2 separate regions of the Homo sapiens genome follow, and region 2 is linked to region 1. The links come from fine-mapping of genetic effects on gene expression. A gene starts in region 1. The other region holds a variant in brackets. All regions are shown on one strand. Distances are from middle to middle. Region 1 holds the start of RTN4RL1-AS1 (RTN4RL1 antisense RNA 1). Region 2 overlaps RTN4RL1 (reticulon 4 receptor like 1).

The links.
Region 2: its variant is fine-mapped to the expression of RTN4RL1-AS1 in anterior cingulate cortex (GTEx, PIP 0.99).

What each region holds. Positions count from the first base shown.
Region 1 is chr17:2,016,270-2,018,769 of GRCh38, reverse strand. RTN4RL1-AS1 (RTN4RL1 antisense RNA 1) reads right to left here and starts at 1,054. Exons shown (of 2, transcript NR_135642.1): 1 at 663-1,054. All of the region lies in intron 1 of RTN4RL1 (reticulon 4 receptor like 1), which reads left to right. The region is part of intron 1 of LOC105371486 (a long non-coding RNA gene); the gene reads left to right. RefSeq lists an enhancer at 348-457.
Region 2 is chr17:1,996,477-1,998,976 of GRCh38, reverse strand. The region is part of intron 1 of RTN4RL1 (reticulon 4 receptor like 1); the gene reads left to right. Among named protein-coding and RNA genes, the nearest start is that of RTN4RL1-AS1, 20 kb to the left of the region's middle. The variant T/G (reference allele first, on the strand shown) is at 1,270.

The sequences.
Region 1 (2,500 bases):
CGTCTGTGCTCATTCCTCCGTGTCAGATGAGGAAACTGAGGCATAGCTAGCTGGAGTCCCTTTCCCTGGGCCACCCAGCCGGCGCACTGCTGAGTCAGGATGCAGCCCCCGCTCTGTCTGTCAAGCCCACCGTCTCCCTTGCCCTCTGGACCTCTGTGCTCCACTGTCTCACGTGCCCATCTGTCTTGATTTCTCTGACATTTGTTTTGTGGGGCGCTGGGCGCTGCTGATTCATTTCTGGCTTCTCGCAGAGCTTGCTGGTGGTTCCTATGCACTCCCCTCTGCGGTTCCTCAGGAGCCTCTCTGGCTGGGATCTGGGACTCCTGGGGCCTGAGCTGCTGTCTCATATGTCCTCTCCTACTCCCTCTCCCCCGGTGTCTGGAAGACACAGTCCTCACCTCTGTCTCCTGCCCTGGTTTCTTCCTTGGGGACAGAGATGGGACAGTGGGCCAGGAACCCTCCTGCCTGCTTTCACGCCCCTGAGGAGGGCCCAGGGCCATGGATTATTGGGGGGCTGTGCTCTGCTTGGGATCTCAGCCCTCCCCATGGTTTGCTCTCCCTGGCTTCCCTCCAGGGTGACCTGATGGACTTGCTAGCACAGCCCCGGAACACACTGGCTCCACCACCTATACCTGCCCCTCTTGCCTTGTAGTGCTCCCTACCTCCTGGGGGGCCTTCCCGCAGCCCAGCCCTAGCCTGCCAGGCAGGATGGCAGCTGCAGGGCTCAGCTGTCCTCCAGAAAGGGCTTCTCCTGTCCCCTTCCAGCCACGGTTGAGTCCCAGAGAGGTCAGTTCTCCCCGTGATTCTTTAGGAAAAGAAAGAAGATGAAACAAGGCAGAGAGTCTAGCTGATCTTAGGGTGCAGGAGCGTGGAATCCCGCTTCAGAGTGGAGGCCTCCTCCGCTGTGGTGAGGCTCGTGCTTCCGAACCTGTGATCACTGTCTAACCAGTCAGCGAAGCGTGGAAACGAAACTGCAAACAGCCCCTGCTATCTGATTCAGGAGAGTCGCTCTGGAGACCTCTGTGCTGGCACAGCAAAAGAGTTGGTACCATAGTGTGTGTGCGTGTGTGTGTGTGTGTGTGTGTGTATGTACAGAAACACACCTGGCAAAGCATGCAACAGGCTCCCTGTAGTGTGTGTGGCAGAGGTCACTGTTGCAGAGCAGGACACCCTAGTGCACCAGAGCCTCTGCTGGCACCCACACCATTGGTCCACTGGCAGGGCTCGGTGCCGTGGCACGATGGTGAGCCAGTCAGTGGGGGCAGGGGCTCCCAGGAGTGGGCAGGCCAGCGCTGTGTGTGCCACATGTCAGGAACAACACTTGCTGAGTGGGTGTGTGGCTCGCCCTCACAGGGGGTGGGTGGGCACGACTCGTGACATGTCTGCCAGGGGACAGACCACTGCAGCCCCCAGCGATGGGCCACTTGGCAGCTCACTGAGTTGATTCCAGAGGGTAGTGGCATCATGGTGACAACTACGTGAGCAAGGGTCTTTCCCAAATCAGGACAAAAGCTGGGCTCCCAACTTTCAGCCCACTGAGGTGGTAGAAAGTTTGCTTCTGCCTCCAAAATCATCCCCACAGGATTTGCTATCTCTTTCTGGGCACCAGGACCAGCACGCAGTGAAGGGGGCCTTTACATATGCTTATGTTGAGAGATTCATGAGGCCCTGGGGGGAAATTGGCATTCTTCTGACCATGATTTATTTATACGGCGATAGGATGATGGGGATATGGAGGCTAAGGTGACTCCATGAGTGAGAAGCGCACAAGGCAAGAAGCCTTGCTCTGCATTTGACATTTAGTGGGGTGACTCCTACCAGGGAGCTGCTTTTCCTTTTAGAAGGTTTTGCCTTTAATGTTCTATTCATGGGCTTGTCTGAGCAAGCTGGGAGAAGGAAGGAGCACGTGTGGAGGTGGGCCTGGGGTCTACAGCTGGCCAGCCTCAGGGGAGGCAGGGCCGAGGGAGGTCACTTGATGGCCAGTGAGGGGCACCTGGGCAGGCCGGACGCTGGGGACAATGGCTATGCTCTGGCGCTGCAGCCCGGCCTCCCGCCTGCCCGCCTGCTGCCGCCTGTCGCTGGCATGTGCCGCATGCCACACGCTGCGTCTCTCTGTCTCTCATCACACGCTGCCAGACTCCGTCTCTCACCGCAGCCCTGTATGCAACCCTGGCTTTGCCCTTGTCACGGCCCTTTCCTTTCCAGGAACTGTGGGGCTGTGGAAAGACCAACGGAGCTGGCACCCTGGGGCTGTGTTCGGTCAGCTCTGGGGCGGACTCAGTAGAACCCCAGACATGTCTCCTCATCTCTGGGCCTCAGTTTACCCATCTGTAATATGACTAGATCAATGGTCTTTCAAAGTTTTTTTTTGTTTTTTGTTTTTGTTTTTGAGATGGAGTCTTGCTGTGTCACCCAGGCTGGAGTGCAGTGGTGTGATCTTGGCTCACTGCAAATTCTGCCTCCTGGGTTCAAGTGATTCTCCTGCCTCAGCCTCCCAAGT
Region 2 (2,500 bases), 20 kb after region 1:
AAGGGGGAGCAGCTCTTCAGTTGTGCACAGCCGACTGGAACCCTCGGTGAGGGCAGGGCCTGTGTCTGTTCTGCGCGTGGGATGAGCGCGTAGAGAATAAAGGGGCTCCGGGGTCGTCTTCGGCTGCCGGGAAAGTGCGTCAAACCCGCGTCCCCAGCGTTTTTAGGGCCCTCGCAGAGCCCCACCCCCACCCCCACCCCGGGGTCCCCGTGCGCGCGAGGCCGCCCCTGTCCCCGTCTGTGCTGCGAGGCCCGTGAGGGGAGCGGGGCCCGGGCGCTCCGGCAGCGCCAGCTTGGGCAGGAAAGCGCCGCGGCGACCTCGGAGGCCACATCCCGGCGAGCCCAGGAGGAGGCGAGCCGGCCCCACGTCCCCCACCCTCCGCCTCAGCGTTCACGTCTGTAAAGTGGGGGCAGGAAAGCCGCCGGGGATCCGGCAGGGACCTGCGCGCTGGGCAGCGGTGGCCGGCCCGGGGGCAGCCGCGGGGAGGGGAGGCCCGACCCGAGCGGGGCGCGTGGGGTGCGCAGATCCCCGGCCGGCGGCTCCCGCGAGAGGGAACGGATCCCAGCGCGGCCGCGGCTCCCCGCGCGGTAACCCCGATCTCTCAGCGCGGGCCCCCGGCTCTAGAGCGAGAAGACCCTCCCGGGCGGGGCCGGTGCCCAAAGGGCGCGCTCGGCTCGGGTCGGCCTGCGGGAGGCCTTGGGGCGCCGGGTCTGGGCACCGCCCTCGCCCTGCAGCTCCGGATCAATGCGACAGCCCTCCCCGCCCCTCCCCCAAAGGCCAAACAAAACATAGTAAATATTTAATCCGGGCCAGGGAGCCAAGGAGGCCTCCCCGCCCCCTCCGCCGCCGTCTGGCTCCCCTGCCAGCCCCGGCAGCTCTCCCTCGGTAATGAGGCCGGGAGAGGCCGGGATCGATCGCGGCCTGGGGCGGAGGCGGGGGTGGGGGTGGGGCGCCCGGCACCCTGAGGGGGACATCGCTGCCCGCCCCCAGGCCCCAGACCCAGGAGCCCAACCGAAGGCACCTGCGCCCACGCTTTCCCCAGAAGGCCTGCGAGGAGCGCGCCGGCCCCTGCCGGCCTGCCCTTGTCACCTCCCTTCTCAGAGGGCGTCAGCTGGGGTCGGGGGTCTGCGGGGATGCAGGCCCGAGTAGGAGGGCTGTGAAGGGGGCGGGGACCTCCCAGCCCCGGCTCAGGCCTGACCTCCGAGTCCTAGTGGTTTAAAGCCAGCAGGGGCTTGGATGAGGCCTGGGTGGGGCAGGGGCAGCTAGGGG[T/G]GCCCTAGAGGGAGGCTGGCGAGGTGTTCCTGTACCTTGGAGTAGGATACCTTAGTGTGCTGGTGGTGCTCCCGATTTCCTGGGCATTGCCTGGGGAATACCTAGAGGGGACGGTGACATCCTCACTGCTCATTCATGCAGTGGTTTATGATTGAGCACCTACTATGGGCCAGTCATACTTGTCGACTACCAGACAGACAAGTTCAGACCTGCAGAGGGATCGCATTCCAGAGAGCGACAGTTAATAAGTAAACACATGCGATGATTTCAGATCGTGGTTGGACTCAGTGTAGAGAATAAAACTGTTAATGTGATATTGTACTTGGCCGGGAGAGGAGCCACATCAGCTGGGCTGGTCCTGGAGCTGGCTGAGGACGATGGGTTGGGGAAAAAGCATCCCAGACAAAGTCTGTAGGAAGTGCAAAGGCCCAGAGGCAGGAAATAATTTGCGAGGAAGGCCAGTGAGGTTGATTGTCGTGAGTGAAGAAGCAGGTAGTGAGCGGCAGATCCCTGAAGGTCTCGTGGGCCACGGAGGAGTTTGGATTTTGTTCTAAGTGCAGTGTGAATGCATTAGAGGTTTTAAGCAAAGGAATGACATGATCTGATTTACATTTTTAAAAGCCTCTGCTGGCTGCAGTGTGGAGAATGGAAGATAGTTAAGGGGGAAGGCGGGGAGGCCAGGTTGGTTGCGGGGGATGGTGCAGTGGTGTACACAAGGGTGGCTGGTCCCCTGCCTGGCTTGGGTTATGACTGAAGTGGCCATTTACACATCTGCAGCTGGCAGGGCCCCCAGCAACCAGGAATAGCCTGCTCCTGGGTTCTTTGTGCACAGAGTCCCAGCTGGCCTGGGCAGAGGCTGGGGTGGCCCCCGTCCTGTCTCCGAGACCCAGACTCCACAGTGGGCAGCCCAGGAAGGTTTTTTTTAGGAGCATTAGAAAATGTTGACATGTTTTTTGAAACAATTTCAGATCTGATATCTCCGCCAGATTGAGTTTGTAACCAGCTTTATTGTTTAAGCCTGCTGGGATTTCATCAAAGGCGTCTGCTGTTTACCCAGAACCATTTCATTGGAGAAAACAGCAAACAGACCTGCATTTCTATCTGATTTCACTTTTTCCCTTTTCTCATGAATTTAAGAGCTTGTGAAAAGCAAGGCTGATAAGGCAAGGCAGCGAGGATCACATCCGGAAGAGGGGGGTCACAAGGATCTCAGCTGAGGTTTATTAATAGA